7 linked regions of the Homo sapiens genome follow. The protein of the gene in region 1 purifies or fractionates together with the protein of each later gene. This does not show direct contact. Each region holds a gene or a part of one and is shown in the gene's direction. Other genes may lie near its edges.

Region 1 (3,500 bases):
AACATGGAAGTGGAAGAATAAAAGTAAATGGAATTGATTACCAGCTTTACTTCCCGATCACACAGGACAGGTTCGTTTTGGGTTCTGATTTTTTGTTTTTAAAGGAAACATACTTTATAATACATCATGATCATTTAAGAAGGCTTGTGATCTTCTAATTCTGTTTATCTGAATGATTATTTCTCTTTACCAATGTAACATATCAAACTAGCTAATTGAAGCTATTTTTTAAAGCAGCTTCCAGATTTTTTAAAAAGCATCTCTAGAATTCCTCATTAATTGACTCTTCTTCCCCTTTTCATCAGATCCTACTGCAGTTTGAGTAGTCTTAGATGTAGCTTATGTTCTGAAGTGCAGACTGTGCCAAAATGTAAAAAATTTTGATTTAGATTTCCACCTTCTAGTTTGGGGATGGGCGTGCACAAAACAAAACCACCACCACAACAACCAGCCTTGGCACTTAAAACTGACCTAACTCACAAGGCAAAGAAAAGTGCAAGTAATTTCTTGTGGCTTGTGTATGTTTTTCTGATCATAAATATTAGAAAAATTCTGCTTTATCATTTTGGATTTTTTCCTATTCAGAGGAATGTGATTATATATATTGAGCAAGCAAAGAAACCTAGCATTTATGGGTTAAAATAAGAACTCATCAGGCTTTGCTTAGTTCTGGGTGCTAAATATGGCAGTTTTAATTTTTAAACTTTGTATCCTATGGAGAAATAGACATTAATCATAAATAGATACTACAGCTCTTCTAATCTAAATATACTCATCTCAGAACTCTCTCTGACTTGCTATATAAAGGCCTCTTCTTGATATGGTTATTATTTTCCCAGTACTTACTGTCATTATCCACGAGTAACAGAAGTTTGGTATGATTAGTTCCTCCTTTCCTAATCCTTCTCCTGTTTCCTGCATGTGTTACGGTATTTAAGGTCAAAAGGGCTAAAACTCTTTTGATACCAATGCTGATATAGGCAAAAGAGGACCCTCCTAATACAGTGTAAGCTTCTGGACACAATAATTATTTTAGGAAATGTGTGTTTATTTTATTTGTGTGTGCCTGTGTCAACAAGCAGTGCATTCTTAACTCCATTTAAGATGAATTAGTTCTGCTATTATCCTCACAGGACAGGGGATGGAAGAAGCTTTTATTTCCCTTAGGAAAAGCCAGAGAGAAACCCATACCCCAGGGTTTGATAACTTCAACATTGGGAACTATAGGAGGACTGTTCTTTAACCAATAACCTGTCTGTTGATTTGTATTCAGACATAACTCCTGATGATTTAACAGCAAGTCTCAATTCTGGCTTGATCTCATAATGAAATTACATCTTTAGATCTTATTCTTTGGTTTGAATTCAGCAGCTTTTTACTAAGGACATCTATGTCTCCAGTCTTGTTCTGGGCATTGTGAAGATATCAGAGATATTTAAGATATGATTCCTATTGTCAAGAAACTTCCTACATGGTTGGGAAGCCTAAGCCTAGTCTTGGTGGGAATGGGCACCTACAACTATTTTAAAGTAGTTGTAAGGATTTAGGGCAGTCACTTCAGGAACTTACAAATCAGCAGTGAGGTGACCATTGACTAATAGGAAGACTAACCAACCCAGAATCAGGGATCTTGATCGGAATTCTGTCATCACCTAACACACAGTGAAGTGGGTTAGCCACGTAAGTGAAGTTACAAGGGAGGCTTCTGGACAGCCATTTGTTTGGGAGCTTAAACACTTTCCTGGCTTAATTTTTAAAATTTTATGATTCTTTAACAAATGCTTATATAAATAAAAAGAGACTTCAATTAAAATCTAGAAAAATAGATTTCATAATGTAATTACTGGATATATAACTGAGTCATGGAGCCAGATGGTCGAGGTAAATGCAATAGTGGAATTAGATTTTCAGTCTGTACATTTTTTTTTTCTTTTTTTTTTTTTTTTGAGATGGAGTTTCGCTCTTGTTGCCCAGGCTGGAGTACAGTGGTGCAATCTTGGCTCACCACAACCTCCGCCTCCTGGGTTCAAGCAATTCTCCTGCCTCAGCCTCCTGAGTAGCTGGGATTACAGGCATGCACCACCATGCCTGGCTAGTTTTGTATTTTTAGTAGAGACGGCGTTTCTCCATGTTGGTCAGACTGGTCTCAAACTCCCGACCTCAGGTGATCTGCCCGCCTCGGCCTCCCAAAGTGCTGGGATTACAGGCATGAGCCACTGCGCCCAGCCTAAATTTTCTTTTATATTTACTTTTTTTTTTTAAGAGACAAGGTCTCTTTATGTCACCCAGGCTGGACTCAAACTTCTGGACCCAGACTGGACTCAAGCTGCTGGGCTCAAGCAGTCCTCCCACCTCAGCCTCCTGAGTAGCTTGTACTTTAGGTGCTCAGCTTAAATTTTCTTTAGTTATCATAGTATATTAATAGATACTACTTATAATACTGTTTTTATAACTTATGGCTACTTTTCATTTGGTTTCTTGGAAGCATTTGTTCAAAAAGACAGTATAGATTTATGAGTTTTTTGTTGTTGTAGGAGTTATGTCATCCCTACATCGTATTGTTATAAATTCCGATTTGCTATGGCTTTTGAAAGTCATCTTTTGCCCATCTGCTTGTGATTATTTTACTAGTGTGGTATGAAGAATAGCACTTGAATGTCCTGTCCATACCTGTCTCTCAGCTTAACTGTGTTATATAAACTTGATTTTGGGTCTAGAAGCTACAGCATCAAAGAAAGCAAACGCAATATAAGTGAGCTTTTCTGCATAAAAGTGTAGCAAGATATTAAGGCAAAATAGCAAAATCAAAGTGCTTGACAGAGGTAATGGTGAACATCTTACCTGGCGTGAAAATGATATTCAACAAATACTTGTTCAGTTGAGCAGGAGAAAGTCCAGGGCCGTGTTTTGTCTGTGGTGCCTGCCCCAGGATCTTGTAGGCCCTGACCGACCCTGAAAGAGCAGGCCTGACAGGGGTTGTGTAGAATGTCACCTGGCCCCAGGAAGGTAGCAGGACCCTATGATTTAGAGAACTTTAAGAATATTGGGAATAGGTGTTTGGTGTCAGGGAAGTGCAAGGTCGAAAATAGTTTTAGAAACTTTAAAAACTAACCATATCAAGATGAGCATTATACATTATACAGATACACTTATAGTAGACTTTATTTAGTGAATCCAAATGACATGTGATAATTGTTTGGAAAGGCCTATTGATTTTATATCTGATCATTCAATCCAGAGACATTAAATTCAGTTGATTAATGGAGTTCCCCAACTGTAAGACTTCTTTACGAGATTATTTTCAAGCTTTGAAAAGATCTTCTGAGATAAAGGGGATCAGCAAACAGTAAGAGTGTGTTGCTATACCCAAGCAAAAGAAATAAATCTTAATCTCTCAGCAAATCATTCAAAATGTCAGAAATGTTAGTGTTTCTATATCTTGGTAAAATGGATTGATTGAGAAGTATGAAAAGTATAACAGTGGCATGCAGAATATTGTT
Region 2 (3,500 bases), on another chromosome or scaffold:
ATAAAAGTTTGAATATAAATGTAGTCAAATCTTTCTCCTGTGTTTGTTGTTCATTCTACGCCACTTATCTTTAGAAAATCTTCCCCATTTAAAGATCAGAATAACCAACTATATTTTACTGTAATTTTACACTTTATTAAACATTAAGTAGAGTGTAGGCTTTAAGTTTCTTCCTCATGGTTATGAAAATTTTCTAATCAACATTAGATATTTTCTTGTTTAGCACCTCTAGCTTTACTATCAAAATTATTGGCATTTATTTTAAAGATTCCGATTGATTCCTCACTTCAGGTTTTACAGACATTTCACCAGAGGAATTGAGGCTTGAATACCATAACTTCTTAACCAGCAATAACTTACAGAGTTATGTAAGTTTGTTTCCTATTAATCTACTGCAATAACAGATGAGCTCTTAATTACTGCTTTCTTTATCGTGGCTTGTGTTTTGGCAAAACCGATGAGGTCTATGATCTTTTTTCAGGAGTAGGCTATTTTTCTTTTCTATATTATTTTCATTGAATTTGGTTGGTTATTAAAATGATAATATATTTTTACTTTAATAATTAGGAATATTACTATTTTTATTATAAATTACCCAACAGTCAATCCCAGAAATGAAACCCTTTTATCATTTGACAGATATTTATTGAACATCTGTTAGGTACCAATCCAGTGATGAATGCTAGAAAAACAAAGTTAAATAAGATACAGTCTGTAATACAGATTAACATCCTCATATATCAAATATCAAAAAAAATTAAAAATCTTGACTAGAATAAGTTGAGTACCTGAAGGAAGCAGTTTAAATGCTGTATTTTTCTGTTTCTACAGTCATGATCATGCATTTCAACTAGTACATGTATTCACCGCCCATCCAAATATAACTAACTACGTGCTGCCAGGTACTTGTGATACTAACCAGATGATACAAGGAGTTGAACGGGAGAGGGAACTGGAGCTGGCATATCTTTGACAAATAGGCCAAGTCAATGCAAATTTTGCAAGTCATGGGCCATAAAACTGTTACATAAACCTTTTGTGATTTTGGCAAAGAAGTATGTGAAGTTTTTATTGAAGAAACTAACTTAAACATACAATATTGAACTGTTATTTTTCTGTCTTCCGTTTTCAGCTAAATTCTGTCCAACGTTTAATAAATCAATGGAGGAACAGGGTAAATGAACTGAAAAGTCTAAATATATCAACTAAAGTAGCTTTGGTGAGTATGGGAGAGTTTTCTTGAGGGAAGTGTCTTACCTATTGCTTTTTTGCAGAGGATATTTTACTTTAGATTTGGAAAGCAAAACAAAAATTTTCTATCAAGAATTATGATACACACATTCCCAAAATAGCATCACTTAAGAGTCAGGGTCTTGAAATAGTTTTCTCTGTGTTCCTTGGTCAGAAAAGCAGAAATAGTTATGCTTTTTAAAAGCTTTTTAGGGTAAAGTTTTTAACTTTGGTAGTGCTAGTTTTGAAAATGGCAAACTATTACATAAGTTTAAGTATTTAAGGTTATCTGTATGTAAAAAGAAATTACTTTGAACAGTTATATGAATGCACATTTAGAATGTAATGTATCGTTTTGCGACTGAAGAACACAGTATGTTCCTTGTCTTAAACAGAAATGCCTTTGGAAGATATATACCCACCTGTCTCCAAAGATCTATGGTCCCGACTGTGGCAAGTTCATTATCTTTGTAAATAAAGTTATGATGTTTCTACACCCATTAAAAAGTTCTTAAGAATTTTATTTTAAAATAAGATATTCACATTTATAATTTTAATATTTCCAATTTCTCAGATGGTTTCTACTCTGTATAAGGATATGAGAGTAATGTCTCCCTACACTTAGTGAATGGTTGACAGTCCCAACACCCCACCCCTTTCTTAAATATGTGCTTCCTGAATAACTAGACTCTTGTGCAAGCTAATTTCTTTCATCTTTTAGTTCTTGTAATGCTATTTGAATTTAGTGGGACCTCTTGGAAGTAGTCTGTCCTTGTGTGAGAGGTGGCCCACCATCACCATGGATGAGAGCTGATGGAGAAAGGATAACTGAGTCCAAAGAACTGTGGAACTTCCCTCAGGGCTGGAAGGTCCCTGCTCCTTGCTAACTGCCCAGGGCCCCTTCCATAGGTTAGAATGTGGGACAACCCACCCATAGCTGACTTAACATGTATCAGGAGTTCATGCCTTCTTTATACTGAATGGTAACCCATTGTATGGATATAATTTGTTTATCATCTGCCTGTTAATGAATATTACACTGAGGGAGAGAAACCAGACCAAAAAAAAAAAAATAGTGTAGACCATGTGATTCCATTTGTATGAAACTCTGGAAAAGACAAGTCTCATTTGTAGTGATAGAAAGCAGACAGAGTGGTTGCCAGGGACCAGGAGCAAGAATGCTTTTGAGGGCTGGGTGCAGTGGCTCACGCCTGTAATCCCAGCACTTCGGGAGGCTGAGGCAGGCGGATCACAAGGTCAGGAGTTTAAGACCAGCCTGACCAACATGGTGAAACCCGGTCTCTACTAAAAATACAAAAATTAGCCAGGCATGGTGGCACACGCCTGTAATCCTAACTACTCAGGAGGCTGAGGCAGGAGAATCACTTGAACCCAGGAGAGGTTGCAGTCTCAAAAACAAAAGCATTCTTTTTTTTTTTTTTTTTTTTTTTTTGAGGCAGAGTCTCACTCTGTCACCCAGGCTGGAGTGCAGTGGTGCCATCTCAGCTCACTGCAAGCTCCGCCTCCCGGGTTCACGCCATTCTCCTGCCTCAGTCTCCCGAATAGCTGGGACTACAGGCACCCACCACCACGCCCAGCTTTTTTGTATTTTTAGTAGAGACGGGATTTCACCATGTTAGCCAGGATGGTCTCGATCTTCTGACCTCATGATCCGCCCGCCTCAGCCTCCCAAAGTGCTGGGATTACAGGCGTGAGCCACCACACCGGCCAAAGAATGCTTTTGAGGCTTCCAAATGAAAGAAATCGCTTATGTTTGCTTTGGATGATTAAGAAAGTCTTCTTGAAAGGAAGGAGCAAATACAAAGTTCCTTGAAAGTAGGATTAAGATTTCAGTAAGCAGAGATGAAAGACATTTCTAGAGCACAGAACAGCAAGAACATAAAGTACTTTCAGGGAATGGGAAATGTTTAATGGATTTTTAGTCATAAGCTTTTAATTATATAATAGTGGATCTACTTCGAGTATTAGACTGGGTATTCTATAAAGGTCCTTTTTACCTAATATCTAGATTTCTTGATAAATGCAGATCTACCCTTATAGACACTGAAAAAAATTTAAAAATATTTTTCTGATTATAATATCTGCTCATTGTAGAAATTTAGAAAGTATAAAAAAGCATAAATAAAATTTAAATCACCTGTAATTTATCAGCCAGAGATAATCACTGTTAACTTACTAATGTACATTTTTTATGCATATTCATATTACTAGTTGTGATTATACTGTTTATACAGTATTATGTCTTATCC
Region 3 (3,500 bases), on another chromosome or scaffold:
GTCTGTATTGGTCATGTGTGGCCACTGAAGTCTCTGTTCTGTTAGCTTAGTGTTCAGCTTGGGATTAATTTGTCAGAGATTTTTTTAAATACCTGGAACCCAAAAGATGACCAGTCTTTGCCAATGGATCTGAATTACATGTTGGAGCATGCCTTCAAAACTCAGCTAAAGCATCTTACAACTCTGACTTAGCCTTCAGTTCCTTCTTATGCAGAGCCTGAAGGTCAGTCAAAGGTGAGGGCTTGGTGCCTTCTCAGATCTTCTCTGAGCATGTGTTCATCCCTGGGTATGAGCATGGCCTTCTAGAAATGTGTGGAGGCCGGGCGCAGTGGCTCATGCCTGTAATCCCAGCACTTTGGGAGGCTGAGGTGGGCGGATCACCTGAGGTCAGGAGTTGGAGACCAGCCTGGCCAAGATGGTGAAACCACATCTTTACTAAAAATACAAAAAAATCAGCCAGGCGTGGTGGCAAATGCTTGTAATCCCAGCTACTTGGGAGGCTGAGGCAGGAGAATTGCTTGAACCCAGGAGGTGGAGGTTGCAGTGAGCCGAGATCACACCACTGCACTCTAGCCTGGGCGACAGAGCAAGACTCCATCTTGTGGGGGAAAAGAAGGTGTGGAAAGATGCTCTACTCCTCAGAGCATCTTGTTCCCAACTTCTCCTCCCAGGTTTTTTGGTTAGTCTTTTGTTTGCTTCACAGTTTTCCCTTGCCCCATTGAGCAGTGGCTGATTTGCCTTTAGATGTGTTGGGACACACTTCCCTCTCCACCCTCCAGCTTCCATAGGTGTAGCCTCTTCAGACCTGGGAGAGTTTGGAGTTACACAAATAAAGGGAAGCCCTTTGATCCAGCCCATCAGGGAGCCAGCAGACAGGTCAGAAGAGAACAGCCACAGGTTTTTGAGAATAAGGTGCATTCTGTTCCCTTCAGCACTAGAAACACAGGTTGTTGTCCTCAAGGCAAAATGGGGAATAGAGTGTGCAGCTAGAGTCAGTTAAAATGTCACAAATCTCTCTTACCCAGATTCAGCTGTTTGTCTTGATTAGGCATTCTCCTGTGGCTGTAAACTTTTGATGACATTCAAGAGCTCCAATGAAGTTGATTCTGTGTTTGCCCATTTACATACTGTTTTTGTGAAGGGATGGAGTTGTGGAGTTCCCTACTCCACTACCTTCACTGACATTACTTCGTTTAAGTCCTTCATAAGCACCTCTGTTCCTAGGTCTGTGCTGGGATGTGGGAGTAGTGAAGAATGCAACAGACATGCCCCCCACCCTCATGGAGCTGTCTGTCTAATGCTATCTGTATGAAATGAAGATCTCCTTCTTTCCCTGACTATATATTCTCTGTAGTTAAATCTTTTGGGCTTTCAGATTCTGTATTTAAACCTGGACAGGGGCTCCTGGGACCAGTTATCCTGCAACCACCCTAGATATTGCTTGTGGGGTGTGTGTGTGTGTGTGTGTGTGTGTGTGTGTGTGTGTGTGTGTGTGTGTGAGTGTTTAAGACGGTTGCTATATTTATTCAATTTTGGCATAATTATTTCTCTGCTCCTGAAGTCACACCTCTTCACCTTCAGAACTGATTTCAGTTTCATGGGAGAGCTTGTCTGCTGCACAGTCCCCCTACATCATGTGTCTTTTCTCCATGTACAGGGAACCAAGTTGATAAACCTAGGCTGATCTCCCAGCTGGAGCAAGAAGATAAAGTGATGACAGAAGAGAGAGGAATTCTCTCAGGTACCTGTCCAGGTGAGCACCAGGTGGATATAAGTCCTTGTGAGGAACAGCTCTGGCCAGGGACTGAGAAGTTGGGAGTATTATAATACATTAGGAAATATCAGTCAGAGAACTGTGTAAATGCCCCTTTTCCCAAGAAGGCCAAGAACGTTTGGTCTGAGCCCCCTCATGTACCTTCATGACTTCCAACTTTCTGTCATCTCATACTTTACTTGGGCCTCAGGGGAGAAAAAAAGACATCTCTTTTTCTGAAATTTAAGTCTCCTATGAGCTCTTTGATCAGTTTCAGTCCACCTTGCCTTCCTGACAATTCCTTCATTCTGTCAACATCAATCTCAATCTTCCTAGAGTCTTTCTTAAACATTGCCTAAAATTTTCACACCCATATCTCTTTCACCGAATGCCTTCTCAAAAACCCTCACCTCTCAGATTCTGCCTTCACTCACGTATGCATTTTACTATTTCACCATCAACTTAAAATTTGCCTCTTTTCTATCAACTTAAATTTCTTTTTAACTTGTTTCAGATGTGGAGAATCCATTTAAAGCCAAAGGGTTAACTCCTAAGCTGCATGTTTTTCGAAAAGAACAATCTAGAAATATGAAAATGGTAAGACTAACATGGGTGATTCCTGGTTTTTTTCATGGTAGAATGCCCTACATGAGAAAAGCCACAAGGACTGGCCTTGTTGGCCAGGCACAGTGGCTCATGCCTTTAATCCCAGCACCTTGGGAAGCTGAGGCAGTTGGATCATGAGGTCAGGTCAGGAGTTGGAGACCAGCCTGGCCAATACGGTGAAACCCCATCTCTACTAAAAATACAAAAAAAACTTAGCTGGGTGTGGTGATGCGCACCTGTAATCCCAAATACTTGGGAAGCTGAAACAGAAGAATCACTTGAACCCTGGAGGTGGAGCTTGCAGTGAGCCGAGATTGTGCCACTGCACTCCAGCCTGGCGACAGAGCAAGACTCTGTCTCAAAAAAAAAAAAAAAAAAAGTGGCTTTATTAAATAGTTATTAAAGGAAAGTGTCATTTTTTTCAAAGATAAAGTAGTACCTCTGGAGAGATACTGTGAAATTATTTTGAATTTGGAGAAAAGCATTAGTTAGCCCCAAACTTGTTTTTCCTGAGAATTCCCACAAGTAAATATTTCCAGTAGTCTGAGTCAGATATTGGATATTTGAAAAAGAAATTAGCCTTAAATTTATCAAAAATACTCTGTGAATATGATAAAGATTTGTAGAAAGAATCCATCTTCTTTAAATGCTAAGAATTCAAACTGACAGAAGCCATGTACCAGCACTCATGATGGCAAAAACATTAATTCCAATACTATGATACACAACAGAATTCCTGGGAGAGGAAATTCCTCTGACAGCATTCAATGTTAAAAATATTATAAATGGTACTTATTGTCATCTCTTAATCAATAGGAGAGGAATCATCTTGGAGCAACACTCAACGAATGTAATCAGTGTTTTAAAGTCTTCAGCACAAAATCTTCCCTTACACGGCACAGGAAGATTCATACTGGAGAAAGACCCTATGGCTGCAGTGAATGTGGGAAATCCTACAGCAGTAGATCTTACCTTGCTGTTCATAAGAGAATCCACAATGGGGAGAAACCCTATGAATGCAATGACTGTGGGAAAACCTTCAGCAGCAGATCTTACCTTACTGTTCATAAGAGAATCCACAATGGGGAGAAACCCTACGAATGCAGTGACTGTGGGAAAACCTTCAGCAATTCCTCATACC
Region 4 (3,500 bases), on another chromosome or scaffold:
CACTGCACTCCAGCCTGGGTGACAGAGCATGACCCTGTCTCAAAAAAAAAAAAAAAAAAAGCTTGGTTACGGAAACACCAGGAGTTTGGTCTAGGTCCTGCTACTGGCTGCACAGAAAGCCAATGACTGAGACAATGGGTATTGCCAAGGAAGAAGCTTTAATCAGCTGCCGTAGGTGAAGAAATGGGAGCTCAGCCTCAAATCCATCTCCCTAACTCACTAAAACTAGGGGTTTATACAGCATGGAAGAAATATAACAATGTGTAAGAAAGCAAGACTAGGGAGGGGGCAAGGAGACATCTGTTGTGGTGAGTTTCAGTTGTGGTGAGTTTCAGTTGATTTTTTTTTTTTGAGGGAGTCTCGCTGTGTCACCCAGGCTGGAGTATAGTGGTGCAATCTCAGCTCACTGCAACCTCTGCCTCCCAGGTTCAAGCGATTCTCCTTCCTCAGCCTCCTGAGTTGCTGGGATTACAGGTGTGCGCACCACCACTCCTGGCTAATTTTTGTATTTTTTGGTAGAGACGGGGCTTCACCATGTTGGCCAGGCTGGCCTCGAAATCTTGACCTCAGGTGATCTGCCTGCCTTTGAGAGATCTGAAGGTCTTTTCCTGAGGAAGGAACTCAGACAAAACAAATACAGGTTTCAAGCTTTAACAGCGGAAGGGTCAATTTCTATGTTTATCCAAAAAACAAAAACAAAAACAAAAACAAAAAACAAAAAACCCACAACTGTCTATGGGATTACTGGGCTGGTTTCAGCTCAAGCATCTTTGTTTTGTTGTTTTTTTTTTTTTTTTTTTTTTTGAGACAGTCTCCCTCTGCCACCCAGGCTGGAGTGCAATGGCTTGATCTTGGCTCACTGCAACCTCCACCTCCCAGGTTCAAGCGATTCTCCTGCCTCAACCTCCTGAGCAGCTGGGATTACAGGCGCACGCCACCACGCCCACGCCCGGCTAATTTTTGTATTTTTAGTAGAGATGGGGTTTTACCATATTGGTCGGGCTGGTCTCGAACTCCTGACCTCAGGTGATCCACCCGCCTCAGCCTCCCAAAGTTCTGGGATTACAAGGGTGAGCCACCACGCCCAGCCTCAAGCATCTTTTGACCATTGCTCTTACAAACCTGGTCCACTGCTAAGCCCTGAGATGTAACAGTGTCATGTGTGTTTCACCCCAACCTATTTTTTAAATGATTGGTGTCTTGAATGTGTGTCCTCTCCCAACTTTGTTCGGTGTGTATTTGAAACAAATTCTGTAAATCCACACAATAAACTGAAAAATCATTAACTAGTACCAGTCGGAATCAAAGTAAATTATGGATAGCTGAAAGACCAAGGATAAGTTGTATGCAGTTAGGCAGATAGTAGTTTCTTTGCAATTGTTAAAATTAAGCCTGTTGACCAATTTCCTGTTGACAGGAAAGGCATACTAAGGCTGGGTGTGGTGGCTCACACCTGTAATCCCAGCACTTTGGGAGGCGAAGGCAGGAAGACCACTTGAGGCCAGGAGTTCAAGACCAGCCTGGACAATATAGTGAGACCCTGTCTACAAATAATAAAAAATGAGCTTAGCATGGTGGTGCATGCCTGTAGTCCCAGCTATTCTGGAGGCTGAGGTAGGAGGATTGCTTGATCCTGGGAGGTTGAGGCTGCAGTGAGCCATGATCATGCCACTGTACTCCAGCCTGGGTGGCAGAGCAAGAACCTGTGTCAAAAATTTAAAAAAAAAGGCCGGGTGCGGTGGCTCATCCCTTTAATCCCAGCTCTTCGGGAGGCCGATGCGGGCAGATCACTTGAGGTCAGGAGTTTGAGACCAACCTGGCCAACATGGTGAAACCCGTCTCTACTAAAAGTACAAAAATTAGCCAGGTGTCGTGGTGCGCGCCTGTAATCCCAGCTGCTCAGGAGGCTGAGGCAGGAGAATCGCTTGAACCCAGGAGGTGGAGGTTGCAGTGAGCCGAGATTGTGCCACTGCACTCCAGCCTGGGCTACCAGAGTGAGCCTCTGTCCCCTTCCCCGCCAAAAAAAATTAATAAATAAACAAAATTTTAAAAAAGCGAGCTAGAGCACAAACACAACTAAAAAATTTATCTGTCCAAGAGGACACTAGGTGCTGGCTCTTAGAGGTGAGATTTTCAGTTTCTGACAAAGGAATTCGCTTTACAAGTGTGACTTCCAACACTGTGAGTGTTGAGTGGCAGGGGCAAAATGCTGCCGTAAGTCCAGTATGGCTGCAGGAGAGACCCAGGGGAGTGCTGTGTGACCCTGTGTGAGTGGGAGTGTGGTAGACATGCCAGACGCTGGCCCCTGTAACAGGTGTCACCTGTTTCTCCCAAATGCAAGGAAAGCTGATAAATTAGGGGAGCGCACCATCCAGTCTGAATGTCGACTGTGGAAAATAGATTACAGTCAGTTTAGATGTAGCTGGAAGAATTAGGGGGCTATTGGCTTATTCTACTTATTTATGTATTTATTTATTTGAGATGGAGTCTCACTGTCACCCAGGCTGGAGTGCAGTGGTGTGATCTCAGCTCACTGCAACCTCCACCTCCCAGGGTTCAAGCGATTCTCCTGCCTCAGCCTCCTGAGTAGCTGGGATTACAGGCGCGCACCACGACACCTGGCTAATTTTTGTATTTTTAGTAGAGATGGGGTTTCACCATGTTGACGAGGCTGGTCTCGAACTCCTGACCCCGGGTGATCCACCTGTCTCAGCCTCCTGAAGTGCTGGGATTATAGGTGTGAGCCACCATGCCAGGCCTCTATTTAAAAAAGAATTTCTAATAGAGGCAGGATGTCTTAAAGAAAAATGGAAAATAGAAAAAAAATATAATAACATTTTCTTTTCTTTTCTTTTTCTTTTTCTTTTTTTTCTTGAGACAGAGTTTTGCTCTTGTTGCCCTGGCTGGAGTGCAGTGGCGCAATCTTGGCTCACTGCAGCCTCCACCTCCTGGGTTCAAGTGATTCTCCTGCCTCAGCCTCCTGAGTAGCTGGGATTACAGGCGCCTGCCACCATGCCTGGCTAATTTTTTGTATTTTTAGTAGAGATGGGGTTTCTTCATGTTGGCCAGACTGGTCTCGAACTCCTGACCTCAGGTGATCCACCCGCCTCGGCCTCCCAAAGTGCAGGGATTACAGGTGTGAGCCACCGTGCCCGGCCAAAATAATAAAATGTTCTTTGAGATAGGGGTTTTGCTATGTTCCCCAGCTAGCCTCAAACTCCTGGCCTCAAGCAATCCTCCTGCCTCGGCCTCCCAAAATGTTGGGATGATAGGTGTGAGCCACCATACTCGGCCTCTGCCTTACTCTAAGTAAAAGATGACAAGGTGGATTTATGAATGGTGGAGAAGATGGAAACTAATGGCTGGGTTTGAGATTCAGGAAGTAAAATTGGTGGGACTAGAGGGTGGAGAAAGATGGCAGTGTCATGAGTAGGTCTAAGGTTTATGGCTCATTGGCAAGATCCTCTGGGCACAATTTATTTTCATCCAGAGTAGAGTGA
Region 5 (3,232 bases), on another chromosome or scaffold:
ATTTTTAAAAATGTTTTTTAAGCCATCTTAAACTGAAAGGAAGGTTAACTTCTTTATAAGGATATATAATATACAGGCAAATATACGAAGTATTTATTATGTTACTGCTTTCCCTTAGAGTTCCTTTTGATTCATATTTCATTACGTACATAATAGTTTAGTAATTTATCATGTAAAATTTCAGACTGAGTTGGAAATTTTAAAAACAGTAACAGGTTAAATGTATGTGTCATATTAATTTTTTATTAAACCTTTTATTTCTATCAATGATTTTTTATTTGAAATGTGGTATGTTTTTTTCTTTCTTTTCTTTTTTTTTTTTTTTTTTGAGGCAGAGTCTCACTGTGTCGCCCAGGCTGGAGTGCAGTGGCACGATCTCGGCTTGCTGCAACCTGCGCCTCCTGGGTTCAAGCAATTCTCCTGCCTCAGCCTCCCAAGTATCTGGGATTATAGGTGTGTGCCACCACACCTAGCTGATTTTTGTATTTTTAATAGAGACGGGGTTTCACTATGTTGGTCAGGCTGGTCCCGAATTCCTGACCTCAAGTGATCTGCCTGCCTCAGCTTCCCAAAGTGCCTTGGTCTCCCAAAGTGCTGGGATTATGGGTGTGAGCCACCGTCCCCAGTGACATGGTATGGTTTTAGATTACTCTCATGCAAACCAGAAACCAGGGTGCACTTGGAAAACACAAACTGAACATTCGTTGAAGTTTCATACCATGTCCTAAGTGTGAACTCTTAAAAACACTGAACAGGGCATAGCTTGTCCTGATCTCTTAATTTTGTATTCTGATAGGAGGCAAGATCCAACCTGAGATGAAGACTTTTCCAGAAGCAGGACCACATGAAGGGTGGTCCTGCCAGCAGATCTGGGAAGAAATTGCAAGTGATTTAACCAGGCCTCAAGACTCTACCATAAAGAGCTCTCAGTTCTTTGAACAGGGTGATGCCCACTCCCAGGTTGAGGAAGGACTATCTATAATGCACACAGGACAGAAACCTTCCAATTGTGGGAAGTGTAAACAATCCTTCAGTGATATGTCCATCTTTGATCTTCCTCAGCAAATACGCTCAGCAGAGAAGTCTCATTCCTGTGATGAGTGTGGAAAAAGCTTCTGTTACATCTCAGCGCTTCATATTCATCAGAGAGTCCACCTGGGAGAGAAACTCTTTAAGTGTGACGTGTGTGGTAAGGAATTCAGTCAGAGTTTACATCTGCAAACTCATCAGAGAGTCCATACTGGAGAGAAACCTTTCAAATGTGAACAATGTGGGAGAGGCTTCAGATGTAGATCAGCACTTACAGTTCATTGCAAATTACACATGGGAGAGAAACATTATAATTGTGAGGCATGTGGGAGGGCCTTCATTCATGATTTCCAGCTTCAGAAACATCAGAGAATTCACACAGGGGAGAAGCCATTCAAATGTGAGATATGTAGTGTGAGCTTCCGTCTTAGGTCAAGTCTTAATAGGCATTGTGTGGTCCACACAGGAAAGAAACCAAACAGCACTGGGGAATATGGAAAAGGCTTCATTCGTAGGCTGGATTTGTGTAAGCATCAGACGATCCACACAGGAGAGAAACCATATAATTGTAAAGAATGTGGGAAGAGCTTCAGACGGTCCTCCTATCTTTTGATCCATCAGCGAGTCCACACTGGAGAAAAGCCATACAAATGTGACAAGTGTGGGAAGAGCTACATTACTAAGTCAGGTCTTGACTTGCACCATAGAGCCCACACAGGAGAGAGACCTTATAACTGTGATGACTGTGGGAAGAGCTTTAGACAGGCCTCAAGTATTTTGAATCATAAGAGACTCCATTGCCGAAAAAAACCATTCAAATGTGAGGATTGTGGAAAGAAGCTTGTATACCGGTCATACCGTAAAGACCAACAAAAAAACCACAGTGGAGAAAATCCATCCAAATGTGAAGACTGTGGGAAGCGCTACAAGAGGCGCTTGAATCTTGATATAATTTTATCATTATTTTTAAATGACACGTAAGTGTTGTACATATTTATGGGGTACAGTGTGATATTTAAATATATGTATATGATGTATAATGATCAAATCAGTGTAATTAGCACATTTATCACCTCAATTATCTCTTTTTTGTGTTGAGAAAATTAAAAATTCATTGTTCCAGCAGTTTGAAAATAAATTGTTGTCGATGATAGTCACCTTTAGTGCTGCAGAACAGCAGAACTTCTTCCTCTTATCTACCTGTACTTTTGCATCCATTAGCCAACCTTTGGCCATCCCACCTATCCCTTACCCTTCCCTGCCTCTAGAGCCACTGTTCTCACTACTTCTAAGAAATCAGCTTTTTAAGCTTCCCCATGTGATTGAGGACAGTTTGAAGTTAGTGTTTCAGCCATAGCTCAGCATACCCCAGTGGTCGTGGGACTGTCAGAGCAGAGAATGCTGCAGGGTTTCTAACAGAAGTTTGACAATTAGTTATTATTCAGGAGACAGGTCTTAGTATAAGAGTTTGTTCACACACTTTCAAAACACTAATGATGAACATGTCAAAATTGATGACCACTAGAATGTCAGCCACATGTGTCTTTGTATTTTTGCTGCATCCTTACATTGCTTGAGTCTGGAAGATTGAGGCTGCACTGACCTATGGTAGTGCTACTGCACTCCAGCCAGGGCAACAGAGTGAGACCCTGTCTCCAAAAAAAAAAATTAAATAAATACCTTTCTTTGTTTCTAGACAAGCATCTCTCTGTGTTTCTGGAATTTTTTTTTTGAGTGTACATACATAGTGTGTTACAATTATATTCTTATTTTCTTCAGCAGTGAATATTTGCTGGTATTTTTCTATTTTATAATTGTATGCATTATTTTTAGATTTCTCAGTGAACATCAGAAACCCCATCTCTACAAGAAATACAATAATTAGCCAGTTGTGTTGGTGTATGTCTGTAGTCCCAGCTGGAGACTACTGGAGAGGCTGAAGTGGGAGGATCGCTTCAACCCAGGAGGCAGATATATATACAAATGGAATAGAAGTGAGAGTCCATAAAGAAACCCATACATCTAAGGCCACTTGATTTTCAAGAAGGATCCAAGATTACTTTATGGAGACAGAATAGTCTCTTCGACCAATACTGCTGGGACACCTATACACAGACACACAACATAATGAAGTTAGATTGTACCTCACCCTACACTTAAAAGTTAACTCAAAATTCATCAGTGACCTAATGTAACAGCTAAA
Region 6 (3,269 bases), on another chromosome or scaffold:
AGCGATCCTCCAGCCTTGGCCTCCACAAGTGCTAGGAGTTACAGGTGTGAGCCACCATGCCCGGTCCTCCCTCATTTTTCTGGATCAAAGGGGGAATACATGTTTTGCACATCCAGCCATATTATTGAGAGTCTGTGTTGCTAGTTGCACAGGATCTGCAGTGACCAGAACAGAGATACAGTCCATGCTCTCATGCAGCCGATGGTCTGGTGGGGGTAGCAGATAGTAAAGGTGATGAGCATTCCCAAAGGAGAAGGATGACATGCCGGGGGAGGAAAACTGAGGCTAGAATGTTGGCTAAGGGTGAAGGGGGCAGGGATTGCTGTATCACCCACCCTCTGACAATGCTTCTTGTTGGCTCATTTTGCCTTATTTCCTGACTCCTAGTCAGATATTCCCTGACTGCATACCCTCTTCATCATCCTTCACTCTCATTCTTCCAGTTTTTGTCAGTTCTCACCACCCAGTTATGTATTTGTTTTTTGTTTTTCTTTTTTGAGATGGAGTCTCACTCTGTCACCCAGGCTGGAGTGCAGTGATGTGATCTCAACTCACTGCAGCTTCTGCCTCCTGGGTTCAGGCGATTCTTCTGCCTCAGCCTCCCGAGTAGCTGGGACTACAGGCACCTACCACGATCCCTTGCTAATTTTTGTATGTTTAGTAGAGATGAGGTTTTACCATGTTGGTCAGGCTGGTCTTGAACTCCTGACCTCAGGTGATCCACCTGCCTCAGCCTCCCAAAGTGCTGGGATTATAGGCACGAGTCACCACACCCAGCCTGCTACATTTTCTTTATCAACTCATTGCTCAACGGGCACTTAGATTGGCTCCATATCTTTGCAGTTGTGAATTGTGCTGCAGAAGACAGGCGCTTACAGTCTTTTTGGTATATTGTCTTTTCCTTTGTGTAGATATACCCAGTTGTGGAATTGCTGGATCAAATGGCAGATCTACTTCTGGTTCTTGAAGAAGTCTCCATACTGTTATCCACAGAAGTTGTATTAATTTATCTCTCACCAGCAATGTATAAGCGTTCCCTTTTCACCACATCCATGCCAACATCTATTGTTTTTTGACTTCTTTGTTTTTTTTGAGATGGAGTCTCGCTGTGTTGCCCAGGCTGGAGTGCAGTGGCGCAATCTTGGCTCACTGCAACCTCTGCCTCTTGGGTTCAAGCAATTCTCTGCCTCAGCCTCTGGAGTAGCTGTGATTACAGGGCACCCACCACCATGCCCAGCTAATTTTTGTATTTTTAGTAGAGATGGGGTTTCACTGTCTTGGTCAGGCTGGTCTTGAATTCCTGACCTCGTGATCCACCCACCTCGGCTTCCCAAAGTTCTGGGATTACAGGCGTGAGCCACCTGCACCCGGCCTTTTTTTTTTTTTTTTTTTGAGATGGAGTCTTGCTGTTGCCCAGGCTGGAGTGCAATGGCGCAGTCTCGGCTCACTGCAACCTCAGCCTCCTGGGTTCAAGCGATTCTCCTGCCTCAGCCTCCTGAGTAGCTGGGATTACAGGCGCCCGCCACCATGCCCAGCTAATTTTTGTATTTTTAGTAGAGATGTGGGTTTCACCATGTTGGCCAGGCTGGTTTCGAACTCCTGACCTCAGGTGATCTGCCCGCCTCGGCCTCCCATAGTGCTGGGATTACAGGTGTGAGCCACCACGCCCGGCCTTTTGACTTCTTAATAATGGCCATTCTTGCAGGAGTAAGGCAGTACCTTATTGTGGCTTTAATTTGCACCTTCCTGATGATTAGTGATGTTCAGCATTTTTTTCATGTTTGTTGGTCATTTGTATATATTATTTTGAGAACTGTCTCCATGTCATTTGCCTACTTTTTGATGGGATTTTTTTTTTCTTGTTGACTTGTTAGAGTTACTTGTAGATTCTGGATATTAGTCCTTTGTCTGATGCATAGTTTGCAAATATTTTCTGCCATCCTGTGGATGAGTCTTGCTCTTTTCGTCAGAAAATTCCAAAAGTTTGTTGTTTACATTCCTGTTGGCATCAAGTACACACACACATCCACCTCTGTTACTCCCGTTACATCATAGTTTCATCTGATGAACATTTTTTATGACAGTTTATTTTTCCTTTATAAAAGAACTGATGGGCCAGGCACGGTGGCTTAAACCTGTAATCCCAGCACTTTGGGAGGCTGAGGCGGGTGGATCACCCAAAGTCAGGAGTTTGAGACCAGCCTGGCCAACATGGCAAAACCCCATCTCTACTAAACATACAAAAATTAGCTGGGTGTGGTCATGCACGCCTGTAGTCTCAGCTACTTGAGAGGCTGAGGCAGGAGAATCACTTGAACCCAGGAGGCAGAGGTTGCAGTGAGCCGAGATCGCATCATTGCACTCTAGCCTGGGCGACAGAGCAAGACCCCATCTCAAAAAAAAAAAAGAACTGATGACATTTTCACTTGCTCTTTATTTTTTTTAGGCAGTGACAAAAGAAGTAAGAACACAAAATTAAGTGTTAAGAAGAAAATTTCAGAATATTCAGAAGCAGACATGGAACTATCTGGAAAAACCCAAAGAAATGTTTCTCAAGTTCAAGATTTTGGAGAAGGCTGTGAGTTTCAAGGCAAGCTGGATAGAAAGCAGGGAATTCCCATGAAAGAGATACTAGGACAACCATCTTCAAAGAGGATGAACTACAGTGAAGTCCCATATGTCCACAAAAAATCCTCCACTGGAGAGAGACCACATAAATGTAACGAGTGTGGGAAAAGCTTCATTCAGAGTGCACATCTTATTCAACATCAAAGAATACACACTGGGGAGAAACCATTCAGGTGTGAGGAATGTGGGAAAAGCTACAACCAACGCGTGCACCTAACTCAGCATCAGCGCGTCCACACAGGTGAGAAGCCCTACACCTGTCCCTTATGTGGGAAAGCCTTCAGAGTGAGGTCCCACCTTGTTCAGCATCAGAGCGTGCACAGTGGGGAGAGACCCTTCAAGTGTAACGAATGTGGGAAAGGCTTTGGGAGGCGTTCCCACCTGGCTGGACATCTTCGACTCCACTCCCGAGAGAAATCCCATCAGTGTCGTGAATGTGGGGAAATCTTTTTTCAGTACGTTAGCCTAATTGAACATCAGGTGCTCCACATGGGTCAGAAAAATGAAAAAAATGGCATCTGTGAGGAAGCATATAGTTGGAACTTGACAGTGATTGAAGACAAGAAGATTGAGTTACAAGAGCAGCCTTATCAGTGTGATATCTGTGGAAAAGCCTTTGGTTATAGCTCAGACCTCATTCA
Region 7 (3,500 bases), on another chromosome or scaffold:
GGTTTAGTAAGACAGTGCTTATGGTTTGTATGATTAGTAAGACAGTGCAATAAACCAAAAATTTAGGAGCATGTGGCTGCCGGTGGTGATTTTAAGTCAGTTTCTTGAGCCACCACTTCTTTTATGTTTTTATTCTTAGAGACAGAGTCTTGCCATGTGTCCAGGCTGGTCTTGAACTCTGGAGCTCAGGTGAGATCCACCCATCTCAGCCTCTACAATAGCTGGAACTCTAGGGCACATGCCACCATGTCTGGCTTTACCACTTCCTTCATTGTCTTACCTAAAACTGATATATGTGAGAACTTGGCAGTGGACAAGACCATAGGTGGTTTTTGTTTACTTTCTCCTGTTTCACATCCACTCTATTTCTGACATAACCAAAAAAAAAGGCATTCCTCTTGCACATTCCATATCTTCCTCTGGATCACTGCCCCATGATGTAATGGCTTCCAGGGTGTTAAGGAGACAGATGAAATATTGGAACCTGATGTTAATGTGAGTCCAGATGGCAATTGGAGACTTGTGATCCTAGGAGCATGTCTTCTTATCATTGAATTTGGTCTTGAATCCACAGGTTCTGGCCTATAGGAACAAGACATTTTCAGTAATGGAAGAAGGAGCTTCCAGGCTGGGGAAGATCATCATTTCCAGTGGTAGCTTGACCTGAGATGATACCTGACCACCACTTCTGGGAAGGCCCAGAATAGACAGAAGAGAGAGAACATACTAGAGTTGCTAGCCCCTAAGAGTTGAACGAAATGGGCAAGGCCCAGGTGAGGTTTGTTTTACCTATTTTGTCGTTTGTTTCCCAATGGGTCTGTGGAAGCTTGTAAAAGACAGTCTGGTTAAATGAGATAGTGTATGCTGATAAAAATCAGGATCTGTGGGAAAATAAGTTTAAGTTGGAATCTTAAAATCCTGGCAAATTAAGAAACAAGATATATGGATCAGGGGGTTTGTGAAAGTTCTTAATGTCGGAACATAGCTAAGTGACTGTTAAGACCCTGTGGGTTTTCTCTGCTTTAAACTGTGTCTCCTTTTTTTTGGCAGCTGAAATAACAGGAAACACATGAAAAATGCCACGATTGTAATGTCTGTGAGGAGAGAGCAAGGCAGTTCTTCAGGGGAGGTAAATTTGTCATTGCTGTGAGAGCTTGAGAAACTTCTTTCCTTCAGAGAGCTTTTGTGGTTGACGGTATCCTCAAAGTCAGCCTTGTAATAAAGGCATGGGATGTTTTCTATGGCTTTTTCCTGTTGTTTAGTGGGGTAAGCTAAGGAGTAATGCCAAAGGAAAACTGGATTGGACAAAATTCTTCGAAAATAGCGTGCCTTGAAAATAGAGGCTTCTGGTCATCTGACTTTGCCCAGTGATAAAGCCTGGAGTATCCAGTAGAATGAATGGGCTGCTTGACCTTTGAATGATCCTCCCTGAAGAAGAATTCTCTCATCCAGATTTTTGTTATTGAGACAGCAGGAGACAATTAACAGCTCCATTCTTTGGTAACAGCTTGGAATGCAGATACTGACAATGCTTCTTTCTTACCTTCTTAACTCCAGGTTCAAAAAACAAAGCACCAGTTCGGCTTGTTTTGCTTTTTCTATGTTTAATTACTGAAATGATACATGGCTACATTTGCACGCAAGAGATTCAAGCAAACAGAAGCATTTGTATCAAAAGACAGTATCTCCTTTCACCCTTTTTCTGCCCAAACTTCAACCCAAAGGATACTAAATAAGTGTTCATAGTTTGGGTCTCTATCTAGTTCCTCCCTGTGATTGACATCTGGTAGAATATATTCATATTTATGTACATTTATGTATACATACTTGTGTATACTTATACATATGTAATTATAAATATTATTACTTTTTTTCTCCCCCCAAGTTGGAGTCTTGCTGTGTCGCCCAGAGCTGGAGTGCAGTGGCGCAATCTTGGCTCACTGCAACCTCTGCCTCCTGGGCTCAAGCAATTCTCCTGCCTCAGCCTCCTGAGTAACTGGGATTACAGGTGCGTGCCACCACACCCTGCTAATTTTTGTATTTTTAGTAGAGATGGGGGTTTCACCATGTTGGCCAGGCTGGTCTCGAACTCCTGACCTCATGAGCCCCCTGCCTCAGCCTCCCAAAGTGCTGGGATTACAGGCGTGAGCCACCATGCCCAGCCATATTATTACTTTTTTTTTTTTTTTCCTCTTGAGACGGAGTCTTGCTCTGTCGCCCAGGCTGCAGTGCAGTGGCGCAATCTTGGCTCCCTGCAAGCTCTGCCTCCCGGGTTCATGCCATTCTCCTGCCTTAGCCTCCCAAGTCGCTGGGACTACAGGTGCCCACCACCATGCCCAGCTAATTTTTTGTATTTTTAGTGGAGATGGGGTTTCACTGTGTTAGCCAGGATAGTCTTAATCTCCCGACTTTGTGATCTGCCCACCTCGGCCTCCCAAAGTACTGAGATTACAGGTGTGAGCCACCACGCCCAGCCGTATTATTACATTTTTAAAATATGTCTTAGATCATATATTATTTGGGAGCTTAATTTTTTGCATTTAAGAGACTGCCTTGGAGATCATTGATAATCATGTGGGTATGTATACATCTACCTCATTGATTTTAACATTTTTGCAGTATATTATAGCATGGAGGTGCTGTAATTTAACCCTGTCTGCTTTTGATAGACATTTAGATTATTGGTAAGTTTTTCATTATGAGAAACAAAGGAATAATGAACAGTCTTATTACATGTTGTTTCATATCTATGCTAGTACTGCCTTCGTGCTTTTAGGGTAGGCAGAATTGGTGGAATTCCATGGTCCTTTGGTATGTGAAATAGCCATGGTGTGCATACGTTGTCATGGAGAAAAGGATCAAGACATGTCCCCGTCCCTCTTCTCCGCATCATCTATTGTTATCCACCTCAGATTGCATTGGAATTGTTATTATAGGGGTCATTGTCATTCGAAGATGTGGCTGTGGGCTTCACCAGGGAGGAGTGGCAGTTTTTGGACCAGTCTCAGAAGGTCTTGTACAAGGAAGTAATGTTGGAGAACTACATCAACCTAGTATCAATAGGTAAGGACAGCATTGCCGTCACTTACCTTTTCTTTCTTATTTGGTGACCACTGTACGGTCCCATAAATATTTAATGGTTTAGACTAAAGTATTATATGTTATAGATTTTTTGTTGTGGTGGTAAAATATATAACATAAAATTTACCGTCTTAACCATAAGCGTGCAGTTCAGTGGGTTAAATGCATTCGCGCACATAGTGTTATGCAGCCACCAACACTACCTTCTGTCTTCTAAAACTGAAACTCTGTACCCACAAAACAACAACTACTCATTCCCCCACTTCTCCCCAGCTCCTGGTGACCACCATTCACTTTCTGTCTTTAGGATTTTGACTTCTCTAAGTACCTCGTATAAGTGGAATTATATAGTGTCTGTCTTTTTGTGTCTGGCTTATTTCACTTATTATGATGTTCTCAAGGTTTATCCATGTTGTAGC

Evidence for each region.
Region 2: the proteins of MRPS9 (region 1) and NUP42 purify together in Homo sapiens (affinity purification with mass spectrometry; one large-scale study listed by BioGRID and IntAct). This does not show direct contact.
Region 3: the proteins of MRPS9 (region 1) and ZNF557 purify together in Homo sapiens (co-immunoprecipitation; one large-scale study listed by IntAct). This does not show direct contact.
Region 4: the proteins of MRPS9 (region 1) and ZIM3 purify together in Homo sapiens (co-immunoprecipitation; one large-scale study listed by IntAct). This does not show direct contact.
Region 5: the proteins of MRPS9 (region 1) and ZNF223 purify together in Homo sapiens (co-immunoprecipitation; one large-scale study listed by IntAct). This does not show direct contact.
Region 6: the proteins of MRPS9 (region 1) and ZKSCAN5 purify together in Homo sapiens (co-immunoprecipitation; one large-scale study listed by IntAct). This does not show direct contact.
Region 7: the proteins of MRPS9 (region 1) and ZNF577 purify together in Homo sapiens (co-immunoprecipitation; one large-scale study listed by IntAct). This does not show direct contact.

The regions. Positions count from the first base shown.
Region 1 is NC_000002.12:105,093,569-105,097,068, forward strand, and holds part of MRPS9 (small ribosomal subunit protein uS9m), read left to right. Parts: coding exon 1-70; intron 71-3,483; exon of another isoform or gene 3,484-3,500.
Region 2 is NC_000007.14:23,195,548-23,199,047, forward strand, and holds part of NUP42 (nucleoporin NUP42), read left to right. Parts: intron 1-291; coding exon 292-368; intron 369-1,132; coding exon 1,133-1,219; intron 1,220-1,625; coding exon of another isoform or gene 1,626-1,700; intron 1,701-3,500.
Region 3 is NC_000019.10:7,079,703-7,083,202, forward strand, and holds part of ZNF557 (zinc finger protein 557), read left to right. Parts: intron 1-1,657; coding exon 1,658-1,753; intron 1,754-2,267; coding exon 2,268-2,350; intron 2,351-3,175; coding exon 3,176-3,500. UniProt on the Homo sapiens protein: May be involved in transcriptional regulation.
Region 4 is NC_000019.10:57,138,703-57,142,202, reverse strand, and holds part of ZIM3 (zinc finger imprinted 3), read left to right. Parts: intron 1-3,500. UniProt on the Homo sapiens protein: May be involved in transcriptional regulation.
Region 5 is NC_000019.10:44,065,268-44,068,499, forward strand, and holds the end of ZNF223 (zinc finger protein 223), read left to right. Parts: intron 1-796; coding exon 797-2,010; 3' UTR 2,011-2,732; downstream 2,733-3,232. UniProt on the Homo sapiens protein: May be involved in transcriptional regulation.
Region 6 is NC_000007.14:99,528,662-99,531,930, forward strand, and holds part of ZKSCAN5 (zinc finger protein with KRAB and SCAN domains 5), read left to right. Parts: intron 1-2,446; coding exon 2,447-3,269. UniProt on the Homo sapiens protein: May be involved in transcriptional regulation.
Region 7 is NC_000019.10:51,877,952-51,881,451, reverse strand, and holds part of ZNF577 (zinc finger protein 577), read left to right. Parts: exon of another isoform or gene 1-495; intron 496-574; 5' UTR 575-773; intron 774-1,050; 5' UTR 1,051-1,069; coding exon 1,070-1,129; intron 1,130-2,936; coding exon 2,937-3,063; intron 3,064-3,500. UniProt on the Homo sapiens protein: May be involved in transcriptional regulation.